Homo sapiens: one gene and its partner. The protein of the gene in region 2 interacts with the protein of the main gene of each other region in a pairwise test. Each region holds a gene or a part of one and is shown on either strand. Other genes may lie near its edges. The genes, in order: KDM6A and TBX5.

The links.
Region 1: the proteins of TBX5 (region 2) and KDM6A interact in a two-hybrid assay, tested with the Homo sapiens proteins (one study listed by BioGRID).

What each region holds. Positions count from the first base shown.
Region 1 is NC_000023.11:45,063,731-45,073,719, reverse strand, and holds part of KDM6A (lysine-specific demethylase 6A), read right to left. Parts: coding exon 9,903-9,989; intron 4,142-9,902; coding exon 3,363-4,141; intron 1-3,362. UniProt on the Homo sapiens protein: Histone demethylase that specifically demethylates 'Lys-27' of histone H3, thereby playing a central role in histone code. Demethylates trimethylated and dimethylated but not monomethylated H3 'Lys-27'.
Region 2 is NC_000012.12:114,359,642-114,369,630, reverse strand, and holds part of TBX5 (T-box transcription factor TBX5), read left to right. Parts: intron 1-3,239; coding exon 3,240-3,466; intron 3,467-9,989. UniProt on the Homo sapiens protein: DNA-binding protein that regulates the transcription of several genes and is involved in heart development and limb pattern formation. Binds to the core DNA motif of NPPA promoter.

The DNA of each region.
Region 1 (9,989 bases), on a different chromosome or scaffold from region 2:
AACCCCATCCAAAAGTGGGCAAAGGATATAACAGACACTTCTCAAAAGAAGACATTTATGCAGCCAAAAGACGCATGAAAAAATGCTCATCATCACAGGTGATCAGAGAAATGCAAATCAAAACCACAATGAGATAACCATCTCACACCAGTTAGAATGGCAATCATTAAAAAGTCAGGAAACAACAGATGCTGGAGAGGATGTGGAGAAATAGGAACACTTTTACACTGCTGGGAGTGTAAACTAGCTCAACCATTGTGGAAGACAGTGTGGAGATTCCTCAAGGATCAAGAGCTAGAATACCATTTGACCCAGCAATCCCATTCATTACTGGGTATATACCCAGAGGATTATAAATCATGCTACTATAAAGACACACGCACACGTATGTTTATTGTGGCACTATTCACAATAGCAAAGACTTGGAACCAACCCAAATGTCCATCAATGATAGACTGGATTAAGAAAATGCAGCACACATACACCATGGAATACTATGCAGCCATAAAAAAGGATGAGTTCATGTCCTTTGCAGGGACATGGATGAAGCTGGAAACCATCATTCTGAGCAAATTATCACAAGGACGGAAAACCAAATACTGCATGTTCTCACTCATAGCTAGGAACTGAACAATGAGAACACATGGACACAGGGTGAGGAACATCACACACCGGGGCCTGCTGTGGGGTGGAAGGCAGGGGGAGGGATAGCATTGGGAGAAATATCTAATGTAAATGACAGGTTGATGGGTGCAGCTGGCCAGCATGGCACATGTATACCTATGAAACGAGCCTGCACATTGTGCACATGTACCCTAGAACTTAAAGTATATATATGTATATATATATATATTATTATATTTTTTTAAATAATATACAATTTATTAATACAAACTTATGAAAACTGCTACTATACACAGTTTGTAACTTGGGGAACAGAACATAGCTCCATGGAACTCTTTCTGACAATATTCCTCCTTAGGTCCCATGCAGTTCATGATGTTAGTTTTGAACCTCCAAATCTTCCCCATTTTCTAGCAACTGTCCTGAGTCTACAGAGAGTGGATGAGAGAGAAAGCCCCTGCTCCAGCAGTTAGAGCAGCAGTACCTAGGAAACAGGACAGAGGCCCCAGCAGATGAGTGAGGAGCAGGTAGAAGACAGTCAAACTGGCAGTGAATCAAGGCACTGTCTAAGGAGAGCCAAGTGTAGCATTTAATCTGAACACTCCCTATTTTCTGTAGGCCCAGAGTTGAACTGAATGATAGCCTAACTTCAAAAAAAAAACTAATATAAAAACCTATAATATAAAAATTTCTAAAGAAACAAATTTTAGGAACTCAAGAACCTCACTATATGCTTTAGAAGAATTTCATTTAGAGATCATCCAATGTCCTCTTAAGTTACTGACCTTAAAAAATCTTGTAAGACAGTTAAGATTAATTACAGCAATCACCATGTTGTAGGTCACTAAGGAAAATGCTGCCAACAACGTGGACCCAATAAAGAAAAAAATAAAATATAAAAAAGGATGTAATTTCTGCCCTAGTCTATGTCAGAATAACAACTAAATAGTTAAAATTTGACAGGAAATAATGAAATAGAAACTAACAGAAATAGAAACTAATAGAAAATGAAACAAAGACCAGCTGGGCACAGTGGCTCACGCCTGTAATCCCAGCACTTTGGGAGGCAGAGGCAGGTGGAACACTTGAGGTTGGGAGTTCAAGACCAGCCTGACCAACATGGAGAAACCCCGTCTCTACTAAAAAATACAAAATTAGCCAGGTGTGGTGCTGCATGCCTGTAATCCCACCCAGCTACTTGGGAGGCTTGAGGCAGGAGAATCGCTTGAACCTGGGAGGCAGAGCGTGCGGTAAGTTGAAATCGCGCCATTGCACTCCAGCCTGGGCAACAAGAGCGAAACTGTCTTAAAAAAAGACAAGAAAAGACAAGAAAAGACAAGAAAAGACAAGAAAAGAAAAGAAAACACAGACCAAAAGGTATTTTTAACACTCAAACTCTTTAAAGAAAAATGACTATAGTGTAATTTATAGTAAAGTTCTAGTGTCACAATTAAAGCGATAAATTTAAATTAATTGAAATTTCTTCTCCATACTCCATTGCTCCTACCCCACATCCCTCCCAAGCAGCAAACTTATATATAAATAAAATTTAATTTCACCTCAATCATTCGTCAGTGACAAACATTTAACGGTAGACCCAGGATACCTTCTAATAAAATAATCTGAACAACAGAAAAGATAATCACACTTTTACATAACAATAAATAAGACATATAAGTACTAGCAACTGCAGGAAGAGGTTTATATGGCTATAAATAAGAATTGTTTTGAACTTTAAAATGTAAAAGCTATATTAAATGGTCAATGTAGCCAAACTAGAACTAATGTTTATAATTTCTATTTATAGAATGGTTATTTTCTATATATCATGACAATCTACAACCAAAAAAAGATCTTTTTAAAATCTACTATATGTCTGCTCAAACTTAACATTTAATGTATCAGAAAATATTACAGAATTATTTGTTTGTTCCAGTTATGTTAACTAAATTTCATTCAAGATTTAGTCACTTATAGAGGACAACAACTACAAGTAAATGAGAAAAATTATATATGTGTCATATACAATGAAAAGGCCAGTAAGAATCTATATGTCCTCCAAATATCAGAGAAAGATGATGCTGCCTGATCCTTTGATTCTTCTTTTGTGGGACAGAGGAGGTTCATTTCTTCATAAATTTCTGAGGCCCTGCCCTTCCTAGACTAGCAGAATATGTCTGGCTCCTTCCAGAATGGCTGACAGTCTGTCATGTCTCTCCACTGCCCATTGCCCCTGACCTCTTCCTTCCTCTTCTGCCTGCTTTATAACCTCTTCTAGATTCAAACAGTCCAGTTTTCTCAATTGTAAGCAAAGACTAGCCTTGATAAGTGATGGGGTCCATTCCTAGCCTAACATTTAATAGGCTCTGATAAAAAAAAAAAAAAAACCCATAGGGTTTTCCAGCCTTGCTGTATTTGGCCAAATATGATTTAACCCATTCTCTTGTTTAAATCCCCAGAGCGAAGTCAATCACACTGAAGCTGACAACCTAGTAACCAGTAGAGGGCAGTAACAGCACAATCAGACACACCCACTCAAAATAAGCAATTTACAGGAATACTTCTCACATCTGATTTGACTACAACATCTAAGCAAAATAAAGCTTCTGTCAAACTCTTAGATGAATGACTACACCATCTTTTGCTTACTTCCCATATCTTAAACGGTCCAAATTTCAGCATTCTGATCATGCCAGTAAGTCAAACATTTTCACTTTGATGAACTTTCCCACACTAACCTGCATGCCTTCAGAACTTCTGCTGAGCTGGGGTATATGGACACAGACATTGATGGTATGATCTGTGGACTAGGTTTGTGGTTAACCAGAAGCAGATCTGTTTTCATGGGGCTCTGAGATTCTTCCATCCCTTCTCCATTAATTGTGTGTAGCCCACTGTGAGGGCTGTTAAGGCTGGTAACACTGTTTGTGGTTGTCTGCTCAGTGGATTTTGGAGAAGGTGTTGCTGTTGAAATGGCTGAAGATGGTGAAGAGGCAACAGAGTTATCAGTCTTTGTATGAACAGCTGGGTGGATGTTATTGACTTTGTCACAGGTTCCAGTACCCACATTGTTATTGGCTTTTCCCATCAACAAGGCAGAGAGCTGAGGATTGTCTGAACTTAGTAAACCTGGTGACTTAGAATCTCCATGGCTAGGACTGCAAACAGCATCTGCCGTCATCTGATGGACATGATTAGGAAGTCCCTCGACACTGGCAGTGCTGTTAGGTGTCTCTCCAGTGTGCCTGCTTGTTTCAGGCACCGTCAATATGTTTCCTGAAGGCTTGCTCTCTTTGGTTAAGGTAATGCCTTGTTGTCCACCTGAGGTAGCAGTGTGAGAGGAGAGGTGATTGAGAGCAGCCCCCTGTGTTACTGAATTGCTAGGCAGGGTGGGATGTCCGTTCTGATTCTGAATACCAGAGCCAGCTGCCTGGAGATGCTGGGAAGGCCCAGTGGAAGAGAGAGGTCGTTCACCATTAGGACCTGCCGAATGTGAACTCTGACCTTTGTGAAGCCCCTAAAAAGAAAGAAAAATAGTTTAAATCTAATATTAAGCAAACTCAGAATATACAGAATTTAAAATATTAAAGAGAAAAGCCACTAAAAATAAATATCTAACTGTATAAGATAATTTGACCCAAGTCCTAAAGTTATCAAAAAGTACCTGCAACTTAGCTAATCAGTATTTAACATCTTTAGAGAAATTTTTCTTCCTTGCTATCTAAAATGACTCCATTATTAGTGTAGAATAAACTACTTCAGATGAAGCATTACAAATTTTAAGTTCCAATATACATATTTTCATCTCTAAAATCAGACATGGATAGACATATATCATCATTAATAATTAAAAGCTATGACCATGGATCAACATAAACCAACTCTCACTGGTCTGTGATCTGTTAAAAGATTAATATAGAAAGTGAGTTCATTAAGCCTTTAAAATTATCATTAAAATATAATCTTCTGTAATTCAAATCCTATTGTTAAAGTAGCTATCCTCAAAATTAAGGGCAGAACTATTAAATCTATGAAAATATTTCAAAAAATACCTAAAGTTTCCCCATCTATCCATCCACACATATTTAGAAGACTAGATAGGCTTGGTGCAGTGGCTTATGTCTGTAATCCCAGCACTCTGGAAGGCCGAGGCAGGAGGATCGTTTGAGGCCAGGAGTTCGAGACCAGGCTGGGCAACACAATGAGACTCCGTCTCCACAAAAGAAAAAGAGAGAGAGAAAGGGAAAGGGAAAGGGAAAGGGAAAGGGAAAGAGAAAGAGAAAGAGAAAGAGAAAGAGAAAGAGAAAGAAGAGAGAGGAGAGAGGAGGGAGAGAGGGGAGAGAGGGAAGGAAAGCAGGCAGACAAGCTAGGTGTGTTGACAAGTGTGCCTGTAGTCCAGCTACACAGGAGGCCAAGGTGGGAGGATCTCTTGAGCCCAGGAGTTTGAGCCAGCAGTGAGCTAAGATGGTGCCACTGTACTCCAGCCTGGGTGACAGAGCAGAACCTTGTGTCTCTCTTTTTTTTTTTTTTTTTTAAAAAAAAAGGGGAGAAAAAGACATTTTAAGTCTCCACTAATGACTTTGAGATAAACTTTATTTTTCATCACCTGAATTTGAAAACTTAGAAAAATACACTGCTACTGTTAAAGCAATCTGAGGGGGCAGTATACTAACAGTTAATAGAAGTTTTAAGACTAGAGGAAGATCACTTAGGGCATTTAATAGAATGAAAATATGATAACTGGAACTAATTTTTACCTGAAATTTGCCTCTGGTGTCACAGAGAAACTTCTTTAAGAAGAATATTTTCATTTCATTTTACTTACAAAATAATTAAATAGGACAGCCAATTTTTCAGCAACACTGATTAAAGTAACATTGGAATCATAAAACGAGTTTACATTTGGAGTTGAGATTACTTCAGCAACAAGGTTAGAGCATTTTGTCAGTAATAAGCTATAAAAGAATAAAACTATAGCTGATAACAAGATATTTATATACTAAAAGGTGCATTTAATCATCTAGTTAAAGTCAGCTAGCATGCCCCTAAAATCAGTTTCTGAAGCTGAAAATTTTAAACTAATGTTTTTACTCAATAGGCTTATCTACCTAAAACACTAGATATATTAAAAGTTGATACACATTGGCCAGGCGCAGTGGCTCACACCTGGAATCCCAGCACATTGGGAGGCCAAGGCAGGCAGATCACCTAAGGTCAGAAGTTCAAGACCAGCCTGGTCAACATGGTGAAGCCCTGTCTCTATTAAAATACAAAAATTAGCCGGGCATGGTGGTGGGCACCTGTAATCCCAGCTACTCGGGAGGCTGAGGCAGGAGAATCACTTGAACCTAGGAGGCGGAGGTTGCAGTGAGCCAAGATCGCACCACTGCACTCCAGGCTTGGCGACAGAGCCAGGCTCCATCTCAAAAAAAAAAAAAAAAACAAAAAAAAGATACACACCAGTGAGTGTGTAAAGGAGTGCAATTAGTTGTAAATGATTTAATAAGTAACAAAGTTCAATCATAATAAAGGAAGGTTGAAATTTGTAAGTTACATGAAAATTTCTCATAAAGCAAAAACACTGCATATTATAATCATATCAATATTTAAAATATTATCCAAGAAAGTCTGGGTAGGTGAGTTAAAATTTCATCAAATGTAAAATATTTAATTCAGAGGCCAATTATTTAACAAATACACTGATTACAATATGCAGAAATGTGACAAAGTAACTATTTTATTACATCTTCTCTATCTGCAAATCAAGGTATTTTAAGCTACAAATTCTTTAGAGTACTTGCTGAATAATCACCTACAATTAATATAATTTTACTTTCATATCTTAAATTATACCCTTGCTACCAAAAGCAATCTGAATAAACCCATTCCACACTGTAATGTAAATTCCTCCCTTGATCAAAAACTAAAAGGTAGATATACCATATAGGTCTACCAGTTGTCTAGTTTTCATTACAATTTCAAAAATTATTCAAATAGGTTTGTATAAGACAAGTTACCAAAAAGGCCTCTTTAGAGTCTATGATATTAATACCATATATCAACAGCAGAGACAGAGGCTTCCCAGCTGTAGTGATATGCAGAAACTTCATTTGGGAAACTTTTGACCTGGAATCAGTTCAACATCATTTTCTAAACAACTCTCTCAACCTCATTACTTAAATTGTAAAGTTCCTACAGATAATGGCTTTGAAGGGCGTGTGAAGCAAAGGCTGGGGGCTCCCTGCTACTTAGTATGGTAAATTACAGAAGCCTCGTGGCCTGCCAACTGAGGAGTTCCTTTTTATTAGAATTACGAATTACGTTTTTAAAGAATCCCACATTTCCAAAACAGGGTTAAGAGAGTATTGAAAACTTCAGCAACTAAGTGAGCCAAAGAAGTAGATGTGAGAGAAAAGAAAATAGAACTATGCTTTACAATCATAACAAAGGCTTTCACTTATTAACTGCCAGTTATACCTTAGAACTATGATAGGCATTTTAACAAAAATCTCGTGTTATCCTTTTAACAACTGTTTAATGCTTAAAGACAATGAACCCCCAAAATCCCATCCTCTCACCCATTCTAACAATTCCCCTTTCTCCTTTGCCATTTTCTCCCTCTCTACTGAATCTTTCCCATTGACTTTTACTGTTATTTCTCTCATTTTAAATTTAAAACAACAACAAGACAACAACTCCTAATCCCATTTTCCCTGTCAGCTACACCCGGTTGTTGTTCTCTTTTATGCCACGGTATATGGAAATGGAAGCCTTGGCACTGTGCAGTGTGTAGCCCAAACAACTGTAAGCATGTGTGCTGGAACTGTCTATACTTGCTACTTCAGTTTTTCTCTGCCGATTTTATATTATCTTGAAGCGAACTACAATTAGGCTTTTGCACCCCAACAATCCACTGAAATTGCCCTTATCCAATGGTCAGCATATCTTTTCTGTAAAGGATCAGATAGCAAATATTTTAGGCTTTGTGGGTCACCCAGTATCATATATTATTCTTTTTTTACAACCCTTCAAAAATATAAAAATCATTCTTAGCTCACGGGTTATAAAAAACACAGGTCGTGGGGTAAATTTTGCCTGTAACCTGTAGTTTCCTTACTCCAATAATGTCAGCAAATATCTCAGATGGTCAGTTTTCAGTCCTCACTTTATATGACCTATGAGCATTATTTGATCATGTCCTCCTCCTTGAAACTTTCTTCATTTGGCTTCCAGGGCATCACTCACATTGTCTTTGATCTCCTACTATGTCACAGGTCAATCTCTTCTATTCTTCTCTGCTAGTTCTTCAATTTCCTAGCCTAATACACTGGAATGCCCTAAGGCTCAATCTTGAGTTCTTTTCTCAATCTGTTCTCACTGATTGGTGATACCATCCAGTTTCATCCATCCTTCTAGTTGGTCAGGCCAGCTGGGACTCCTTTCTCACACATCACTCTATATCAACTAATCCTGTTGGCTGTACCTTCCAAATATACCCAGAAGCTGACCACCATCTACTACTACCACTCTGGGAGCCATCATCAACTTTTAACCTGGATTACAGGTATAATCTCTAAAATGGTCATACCATTTCTACTTTTGCCTCTTTCAGTCTATCCACAGAGTACCAAAGAGGACCTAGTCAAAAACAAAGTTAGATCACATCACTCCTCTGTTCAAAATCCCCCTACGGTTTCCTGGATACTCAGAATAAAATCCAGTATCCTTATAAGGCTGATCATGATTTAGCCATCCTGTTTCCAGCTGGAGCACATTTCTCTCTCTTCTCACTCCTTGCCTGTCCTGTTCTGCCATGCTTGCCACCTTGATTCTCCTCAAATGTGCACAGCACAATCCTACCTTAGGGTCCATTGCTCCGTGCTGCTCCCTAGACCTGGAACAATCTTATCACAAATAGCTTCAAGGCTCACTCCTGTAACTCTCATCCAAATGCTATCTTTCAGAGAAGCCTTCCCTGCCCTTCTGATTTATAACTGCAACTCTCCTACCACCAATCTCTAGTATTCTGCTGTTCCCTTTCTATTAGTGCTTTTTTCCATAGCACTAATCACAACCATCATCTAATGTTATATATGTATTGCTTATTTGTTTACTATCTATTTACCTACACCAAGTAGAGACATCTCAGTATATTTTCTTTATTGATGTATTCCCAGAGCCTTGAGTAGGAAATGAACCTAGTAGGTACTCAGTATTTCTCTAAGAATGAATAAAGTACTAATCACTTTAGATCAGGGTCCCACCAAGGATATTAATTCAAGAATAAACTTAAAAATCTTAGAAAAAGAACTTATTTCAGTTTTATCAATAATATAAGACTAACCGACAATCAGCCAAATATTTCTCTTTTTAAGTCAAATATTTCTCATAGTAAATTAATAAAAGTACAAGCAATTTGGCTATACATATTGAGAGCATTTTCTTAAAACTTACTCTTTGGCCCTTCAGTTTCACCTCAGCGAGTACCCATATCATGGAAACAATCCAAAATATGGGAAATACTATGCACATAAACATTCAGAAGTAAAAACTTAGAAATTAAATGTCTAACGAATGTGCTAACGTTGAATACATTATGACCCATTTCCTTGACAAAAATAATGTGCATGCAATTCATTACTCTGTTTCAAAAACTTTAGTGGATCAACTTTGCCTTCAAGATAAATTTGGCCTCTCCCTCAGCCTCTTATTTCACCCTCCCCTCTTCATAACCTATCTTCTAGGCACACTTCACCAGCCCTCTCCTCCCCTAAACTCTAGCTTCTGGAAGACTCTGACATCTTGGTTATGTGCTCTCGTAGGTACTCTGATAGAACTTTCCCACCAAAGTCACACTTCACAGTCATTATGGTAAATACTTATTCACTGGTCTTTTTCTCCCACTAAAGCAAATACCTAACACCTAGTTTAGTGCCTGATCTTAAGTAGGCAGTTTATGCAGAAATGAACTAAGTAATATTACATAAATGTGCTTATGATGCCACTGTAAATTAATGGTGCATTTTGGGTGATTTATATGATCTATTTTCTTCCTTTGTAAATTTGCTAAGTTATCTATGTCGGTAGAGACTGTACAAAGGGAACAAAGATATACTCATGTATGTACATAATGAATCACAATGTAGTAACATTGTAGTGCCACAAAATTCTTATAAAACCAGTTCCCCAAACACTTCTCTCTTCTTCTCTCAAAGTGTATAAAACCCAGTAAAAACATTTATGTGAAAAGCCAACAAGGAAGCTAGTCCTCCTATTACCTGAGTGGAGTTAGATAGTTGGTTTTTCCACGGCTCCTCTGCGCTGCTGGTCAGGTTTGTGCGGTTATGAGGTAGAGTGAGTGCGTT
Region 2 (9,989 bases):
TTGGTTGACCGTTCCTTTGATCCATGGATGAGCTCTGTGAAAATTGCCCCGCTGTTGTTTGATTCTAACATTTTCTTTCCTTTGCATGTGTAATTCTATAATGATTGAGAAGTCACTTCCCCATTCCATGCCCATATTTTGACACTTGTCAGAGGGGTTTGGGGACATCGTATTTCAGGCATTAACAGAGATGTTCACGATCGGTGTTGGGGATGATGTTTCAGGCTCTTTAGAGGGAAACAAGCTGTGAGGGACAAGTGGTTATTGGGATGATATTGCTTTTCCCACTTCTGTGTTAGTAATCAAAAGCAGGACTTGGCCTTTCCAGAGAGCAATTTTGCAATTTGGCTGTACTGGAACGGAGAATTCCACGGAGTCCATTGATACATTCTCTTGTAAACTCTCTCAGCCAACATTTTTTGGAGGTTATTTTCTTTAATTAAAAAGAAAAACTGTTCCTATTAAAAATATAAAACCAAAAGAGATTTCCCCCTTCCTCTTGGAGCTCTGACAGCAAAATATTGGAACTAAATAGATCTAAATAGAATTGTCGGCAAGTTTTGACAACTTTTATAATGTTTTATTGTTATTATAATTTTTCTTCTTTTTCTTTTTTTCTTTTTTTTTTCCATTACGTAGCTTGAACCACAAAGCAAGAGCTGTAAAGCTAATTCCATTCCCTTCAGCCTCCTGGCCCCAGGGGGAGATTCTGACTGGTGCGGCTGCTCGGATGGCTCCAGCTTTGGTTCTGAGATGGCACAGGGAAGCTGGGCTAGGAGACCCCTGGGTGTCCTGAGGGTGTCTGTAGACTCATGGAAACTTGGCAGATGCTCTGTGTTCCTGCCTGGCCACTCTGGTGTGCTTTCACATGACAAACAAAGGCAGGGACATAGGGTGGAGATGTTCACACACTTGAGGGGGTAGAAGTAGAAAGAGTCTTGTACCCCAAAACCCTGCTCCCCTAAAAGCATATTGTGTTCTAAAAATTGAAAGACATCATTAGGATACAATGCAAAAGTTATGAGGAAATGATTGGATTAGAATTCTAGTTGTGTCTCTTTCTAACTCTGTGATCTTGAACAAGTTGCTTCATCTCCCTGGGCCTCAACTTCCTCATCTGTAAAATGGGATCAAAGATAATACCTATCACATAGAGTCATAGAAAGGATGAAATGGACGAATTCAAGATCCTTCAAAATGCGTTACGTGTAGCTCTTTGCGCATGATATTATTTCAGGTATACTCTTTAATTTTAATAGTTAAGCATTGATTGATTGATTGATTGATTGATTGATTGAGACAGGGTTTCACTCTGTCACCCAGGCTGGAGTGCAATGGTGCAGTCATAGCTCACTGCAGCCTCAAACTCCTGGGCTCAAGCAATCCTCTTGCCTCAGCCTCCTGAGTTGCTATGACCATAGGCACATAAACATTCGTCTTAATTGCATTAAAATAACTATAATTAGCACCACAAGCCTGTAATTTCACAGATATGATCACTTATAGTGAAGCTTAACTTATTTAGATAAATGATTAATTTTTAAAATGTCATAAGTTAAAGAATAGATGGCTGTATGTCATGGTGAAAATTGTGTCTGACTGAAGTTTGGGATTTACTGACACATGCTCCTTCTAGGATAGGGGTTCTTAAACTGTTTGATGCCATGGGCCTCTCTGGCAGTGTGTTGAAGCCTATGAATCATCTCTAAGAATAATATGATTAAATGCATGAAATAGAATACATAGGTTACAAGAGAAGCCAATTATATTTGAAATATAGTTACCAAAATATGTTTTAAATGGCTGTTTAGCAATATATGCAGTTTGTAAATGCCATGCCCAAGATTCCCTATCCCCATCCTAAATGCTGGATATGGGATGTTAGGGGTCAAGCTCTTCTTCTCTCACATACTTGGATATTTCTCTCTTTGTCCCTTCTATCTTGAAGCACCCCCACCCCCACCTTCTCTCTACTCCTCTGCAACCTTCCACATCCCATCCATTCCCCACCTCTCTCATTTCCTTTGAGCCTCCTGCTGCTGCACAGCACGACTTTCCTTCTTCCCAGGAGAGGTTTCTACTGAGTCCTTCTGAGGAAAAAAAATGGGAACACCTGGTATGAAATCTGAAGGTAAGGGAATGTGGAGGACCAGTCCTAAGAGTGTGAGGGGCCAGATTTTGAGCACACTGAGGGATGCTATACCTATGATGTCATGGAATTTTTATTATGCTTACTTTGCCTGTGTGAGCCCTGAAGCTCAGGGGAGGGTTGTGTGTCAGATGGACACACAGCCTGTAAGGGATAGGGATGGGGCCTGAATTGGGAGCTGCGTAATCTTAGATCCCATGCTGATTTTTTCTTTTCTTTTCTTTCTTTCCTTTTTTGTTTCTTTTTTCTTTCTTTCTTTTTAAATCTTCTATGTCCTTGTTCCTCCTTCTTTCTCATTTTCTTTCCCTCTCTTTTTTCCCTCCCTCTATTCTCTCTGCCCAAAACAATAACAGTAATGACGATGGTTGCCATTTGTTGAGCATTTACTCTGTGCCATGTACCTTTCTGAGTCTTTTCATGGTTAACTCATTAACCCGTTTCTTCTATCAACAGCCCTTTGAACTGGGGACATTCATTATCCCTACTTTACAGATGGGAAAACTAAGGTATGGAGAAGTTAAGTATATCAGTGGCCACAAGGACAGAAGCTCAGGAGGAAATTCTGACACTAGCAGCAATCTATCCAGATGAGAGTAACTTAGGATTATACCTGACCTTCCTAGGTTGTCAGCTACCAGTTTTTACTAACTTTGGGCAATGACCTGAGCCCCACCTTAAAGATGGACACCCACAGGTTAAGTCTAAATAAATACTCAGATTAACTAGCTTTCAAATTAGGGAATTTAAAGACATACATAGACTAAATTGACATATTTCAAAATACCATGTGTGTTTATTGATTGTTAAAAGGGGTTCTTAACTGGGGGTGTTTATTTACTTTTCTGCTGAGGTATAGAACTGTTGGTAAATCTACTTGCCTAATGTATAAGGCATGAAAAATTAGTACCCAAATATACATTTGTGAAATATGATGGACATGAATATAACTGGATCATTTTATTCATCAAAGACCTCTTTTTTTTCCTTATTCTGTGACTTTTCTGGTGGATTCTCTCACACCTGGTTCAGCCACTCAGGAAATCTGTATCAGGGCACTGATAGGCGTTATCTCCCATCTTTTCTCTTTCAGTAAAGAATATCCCGTGGTCCCCAGGAGCACCGTGAGGCAAAAAGTGGCCTCCAACCACAGTCCTTTCAGCAGCGAGTCTCGAGCTCTCTCCACCTCATCCAATTTGGGGTCCCAATACCAGTGTGAGAATGGTGTTTCCGGCCCCTCCCAGGACCTCCTGCCTCCACCCAACCCATACCCACTGCCCCAGGAGCATAGCCAAATTTACCATTGTACCAAGAGGAAAGGTGAGTGTGATCACCCCTGGTCAATTTGCTTTCTTTCTTACCTTTTCCTTTCCTTGGGTTGGGGGTGAGGGGGTGAGGAGTATTCATTTATTTACTTTATTTATTTAAAAATGTAAACAACACAAAAATATATGGAGATAAGAAATTTAAACCAAACAGCTAAAACAAAAAGTTCCCTTGACATGTTCCTACCCCCAGTTCCAGCCCCTCCTTTGGAGAAAGCTTATTTGAAATGTTCAGACCTATTGTATTCATTTATGCACACATACACGTGGCGAGTGCAGAGAAAGAACTAGATTTATTTTTACTTTTTTTTTTCTTTTTTTTTTTTTTTTGAGACAGGATCTTGCTCTATCACCCAGGCTGGAGTGCAGTGGTGTAGTCATGGCTCACTGCAGCCTCAACCACCTGGGCTTAAGTGATCCTTTCACATCAGCCTCCCTAGTAGCTGGGACTATAGGCATGCGTTCACACACTGTACTAAATTTTTGTTGTTGTTGTAGAGACAGGGTCTCACTGTGTTGCCCAGGCTTGTCTAAACCTCCTGGGCTCAAGTGACCCACCTGCCTTGGCTTCCCAAAGTGCTGGGATTACATGCCTGAGCCACCACACCCAAAATTTTTTTTAAAAACTTTTAATATAGATGAAATCACACTGTATGTATTTTGCAACTTGCTGTTTTTTTTCTTTTAAACTTTAGAATGTGTTTTGGGTATCTTTTTATGAACCTAGACTGCCTTATTTTATTTTTAACTGCTAAGGAGGAAGAATTGACTGGAAAGGATAAAATGGAGTTTATTTTGTCACTCCCTCTGGTAGGCAGGGAGGTTGCTTGAGTGGTCCCTGATGGTATTACAAGCCGTGATGCAGGAAAACCCCTTGTGACTATCAATGCTTCTCTGGCATATGTGTCAGTGTTTCTCCCAGGTGGATTTTGAACTCTTTTTTTTTTTTTCCTGATCAAAACCAACACACACACACACACACACACACACATCACAAATGATTTTCCCCGTCTCATCCCCCATTTAAATCTACTAAGCTGAGGCATTCCGCAGTTTTCTTTGCCACATGAGAAATAAATGGCTTTTTTTTTTTTCTAAGTCATCCAAGTCCAAAGGGGCTAAGCTAAAGAAAGAATTTTCTGGTGGCCCTTCTTGTGAGCCAGAATAGAAGTGTTTGGCACAGGTGGTGTGGTGGAGTTCAGCTCGATAGAACCATTGCTTGGTGTGAGCTGTAGATGGTATGGTGGGGAGACTGCAGCCTTTGGGGACAGAGAGATGCGGGTTTGAATCTCATCTCTGCTCCCTGCTTCTTGTGTGACCTCACTCAGGTGTTCTAGCCTCTCCTAGCCTCAGTTTCTCACTTTGTAAATGATATGTTTCCTAAAGCATCTGATAGTTAGCAAGTACGCAGTAGGTGGCAGCCATGATTGGGTATGTGGCAGATATCGCTCCAGAAGGTGATTCCCAGGAGGAATCTGCCTCTTGTCTTTGGACTGGCATTAATTTAATCAGTCTTCCCAGAGAAGACTGCCTCTCTAGGTGAGAGCTTGAGAAGACAGATACAGAAGGGATGGGGTAGGCTAAAGTTTACATCTGTGGTCTGTAGAATCAATCAGGATGAAGTTCACCTTTGCAATTTAAAAATTTTCATAAGTAGTGACAAGTTGCTTAACCTTTCCAAGCCTCATTTTTAAAAATCTGTAAATATGGGCTCAGGGTACGACTTGTCTCATAGGCTTGGTGCAGAGATGTCAAAAAATCATACACATCATATGTTATCTCAGGGTTGACTCAGAAAGTAGTAGCTGTTTTGCTCTAAAAGACACTAATTTTAATCTACAAAGTGGCCTGTTGAACCTCACAGCCTCAGTGGTCAACACAAGCCTTTGTGAATCCAGTGCCCAGTGCCTAGCCCTTTAGGAAAAAATAACTCGCTAACAACCAATGGGAATGGATGCTTTGGTAGCTTTTTCTGGAGCTGGGGTTACATGAGGAAAGTAACATAGTTTGACTATTTGACATTTACCAATCTTGCGTTTTAAAGGAGGGAAGAGCTGTCATTGGTATTTACATGGGGCTAGGAGCTGACCTGGATGAGGCCTGACTTCCAGACTTACCTGAAGCCAATCCAAACTCCTTGAATCTCAAAGGCCTGAACAATATCACTCCAACAGGCCCCCTGGCGTGACTCCCGGCACGTCTGCTGCCGGATGGACTGGAGACCAGATGCCTGCAAATATGTCTGCCTCTTTAGGCATGAGCAGGAGGTTAAGAATGTCCTATGGGACACAGGTCCCTGAATAGAGATTCTGTTTTATATTATATTTAAGGGTGCCCTTCCTAAGTCCCAGATCAAGCTTTTTCGACAACACTATGGAGTAGATGCTATTATTAACCCACTTTATCAATGGGGAAACTGAGGCTCAGAAAGGTTCCAAACAAAAACTGCCAGTGGTTCTTGAACCCCAGCCTGGTCTGCAGATTCTATACGTGTGCATTTCACCACTACTCTATACCGTCTTGGTTACCTTTGCTCATCTGCTACAATCTCAAAATTTCATTTTCCACTGAAGATCTGTCTTTGAGACTGGGTCAAACATGCTGATTAAGAGCTCACCAGGTTTGAATTCGGGAGCTCTAATCGATTAAATTAATGCCAGACCAAAAGACAGGCAGGAAGAAGTTAAAAAGGATCATGGTGCTTTTTAGGTTCAATATTTACAGCAGCATCCTTATAAATGCATCCCTGAAGGATGCGGCAGGGAGGCTTTGAATGCACGGTTCACAAACCTCTTAGGTTATGACTTGACTTTCATGGACTGTTTGTTGGATCCTTGGATGAGCTTAAAATCAACTTGGAGTGGCCACTGGGGAAGCTGGAGTTGGGGGCTGATCCACTGTAGTAATACTCACAGTTGACGACACTTGGCAGCTGTGTGCCCAGGGGCAAGTTGTTTTACCTTTCTGGGCCTCAACTATCTTTTGTGCAAAATGAGGATAACAATAGCACCTGCTTGATACGGTTGTGATGAGGGGAAATGAGATCATCCACAGAAAGCACCTAGAACAGTGTCTGGCACCTACAAGTGCTCAATGAACATGTGCTTGCCACAGGCCTGCCCTTGTGAAGCTCATACGGTTGCAAGCAGGTTGGACATTATACAAGTAATTATAAATTGCTTAATTGAAATTGTGAAGCCTGGCACTGTGGCTCACACCTGTAATCTCAGCATTTTGGGAGGCTGAGGCTGGAGGATTGCTTGAGTCCAAGAGTTGGGACTAGCCTGGGCAACATAGTAAGACTCCATCTCTACAAAAAATAAAAAATTAGTCTGGCATGTTGGCACATGCCAGTGGTCCTAGCCAACCCAGGAGGCTGAGATGGGAGGATTGCTTGAGCCCAGGAGTTCGAGGCTGCAGTGAGCTGTGATTGCACCACTGCACTCCAGCCTGTGTGACAGAGAGAGACCCTGTCTCAAAAAATAAATAAATAAAATAAAATAAATGATTGAATGCTATAAAGGAGATATGCAAAGTGTTAAGGAATATCAAACTGGAGTGTCAGTCTAGGGTAGGCAATCAGGGAAGCATTGAGGCTGAGATCAGAGGAGACTGAGTGCTGGATAGGAGAAGGGGGAGGTGTGAGGGTATCCACACATAGAGGAAAGCATGCATGAAGCCCCTTGGCTGAGGGAGAGCCTGCCCCCTGGGGAGTGAACAGAAGGCTGAGATGTTGGCACTCAAGGCAAGGGCAAAGTGGTGGGGGATGAGGGCTAGAGGGGAAGGCAGGGACCAGTGAGATGCCAGCCTGTATAAGCCATTTTAATGAAAGATGTCAGATTTTATCCTACCACCAGTGCACGTCCATTGGAGGGATTTAAATTTGTGAGTAACATGCCTAAGTTCTTTATTTGGAAGCAGTCACTGTGCTATGATAGCACAGGACTATTTAGTTGGCACCAGAGACCCATTGAAAGGCTGTCATGGGGTCTGAAACAGGAGATGGTGGCTCCGACCAGGGTGTGGGGAGAAGCTGGAGATGTGGGTGGAATCAGGCCTTAGTGGCTGGTTGGCGATAACAAGGTGAAGAATTACCCCACTTCTTTGTGGATTTGGAAACCAACACTGAGGAACTTACCCAAAGTCACTCAGCTCGTGAGTGGCCCAGCTTGAGATGTATACTGAGGCCTGTGGGCTCAGGGTGAATGGGGTATGCACCCTGGAGAAATCCTTTCACCTTTCCAGAAACTCTGCCCTTCTCACCTCCCTCCACCCCCAAAAGGGAGCTCCCAGTGACAGGGAACATTCCAACCGAGGGCTCTCTGTCCTGCCTAGGAGACAACAAATAGCAATTCATCATCAGCCTCCACACTGTAAAGTGATAAGGAATCAGCCGAGGTTTCCTTCCAGTTGGGATTCTCATTAAGTGATAACTCCATGGGTGGTTTTCCCCCTGGCCCCTGCCTGCCCCACTATCTGACTTCCCCTCATTGTCTGTCTCCTTTCCAATGAGCCCAGGAGTCAGGCCCAATGAAATGTCACAGGGCCAGGCAGGCCGGAGGGCTCCTTGTGTTTGGAACCGGCTGTCTCCAAACTATCTCTCCCGATGGACTGAGCCAAAAAAGCTGGGAAGGTCTTTTATCAATGCCACTCAATCAAATCCAGGACCCCAGGGCCTGGGAGAGCACTTGTCTGTCTTTCTCCCTCTCACCCCTGACTCTCACCCCCACTCGCATTAGAAACTAAAAGCAACCCAAATAAAGATTCTAGCAAAGCCATGAGCTGAATCAGATATTCAAAGGAAAGTTAGAGATTGAGAGGGGAAGGGGAATTCGATATGGAAAAGGGCTTTGCAGGGTGCATTTTCTGAGTGCTATGTTTTAAAATGCGATTTCACATCCATTCCTTTGCTGATTCTCCAGTTCCCTGCAGCAGTCTTTGGACTAGGGGAGATGCCACCCATCTCTATTTTGCAGGGATCTAATGGAGGACCAAGAGACAGGGTTAGATTTTAAGCTTATGTGGCTGATGATTGGCAGATCTGGGATGGATGCATCAGATTAATCTTTATTTATTGAGCACTTAATGTATAATGGACACTGTGCTAGGTGCTTGGGATAAGTGGAGGACATGGTGGAAAAGGCTCCCGCTCTCAAGAAACTTGAATTCTTACTGGATGAGACATATAATAAGCCAGTAAGTAAATTTATTGGTTTCAGGTAGTGACTAGGTGATGTTTCAAACTGAGTCTTTTGATTTCTCGTTGAGAATCTTCGCACAATACCATTCCAACCCTTCCTACTTTATGCTAAGAGCATGGGGACACCAAAAACAAATAACAACAACAACAAAAACAACAACAACAAAAAGTCATCCACCCACTCATCCACCCACCCACCAATCCATCCACCCACCATTCACCCATCCACCCACCCATCCACCCACTCACTCATTCATCCATCCACCCATCCATCACTCATCTATCTATCCACTCACTCATCCATCCACCCACTCATCCATCTACCCACTCATCCATCCAGCCATCACCCCACCTATCCACTTATCCATCCACCCACTTATCCATCCCCCCACCCATCTATCAACCCATCCATCCACCTACCCAACCACTCACTCATCCATCAACCCACCCATCCATTCACCCATCTACCCACCCACCCATCCATGCATCCATCCACCCATCCAACCACCCATCCATCCACCCACTCATCCACCAATCCTCCCACTCATTCATTCATCCATCCATCCACCCACCCACCCACCCATACATCTATCCTCCCATCCATCCATCTACTCATCCACCCACTCATCCATAAGAGTCAAGGTTTGCTACCTTTTCATGTTGGCTGAGCATGTAGGGTTGCGTGAAATGGAAAGCCTGGGGCCATCTGTCAGAATGAGCACTGCTTTGTGAGTCAGAAGACCTGAATTATAGCCACCTTCCCAACTTGCTGAAGGTCACTCAGCTAGAAAGATTACTACTCTGAGTTTCAGGGTCTCTGTCTGGGAAGACTCGCCAATGGTTCTTCATCTGAATGAACTGAATTGGCAAGAGAAATGACCCATTTGGGAATAGTGAAAATATTTGCTCAATAGGATTAGTATTTAAAAGCACTCTGTGAGCTTTCCAGCTCTGTAATCTACCCAAATACTATTAAGTATGGGACAACTTTCAGAAAGCTATCTATCCAGTCTTCCAAAAGAGAAAGAGGGAAAAGAGAATGGACCCAGGTCATTTGGACAGACAAGATTTGAATGCTTTATGTGCAAGGAAGATAAAAACTCAACTGCCCTCATTATTACCTCAATTAAATCTCATAAAAAGTTCAGGTATTATCTCCATTTACAATCAAGAACTGAGATTGGAATGACCTGGTGATTCATCCAGTCACATGGCGAGCGAGCATTGGAGCTGTAACTCTGTGCCTTAATATCTGTGCCTTGGATGCATTACTAAATTCACTTTATCCGGAATCAAAAATATCTAGAAAAATCCAAAG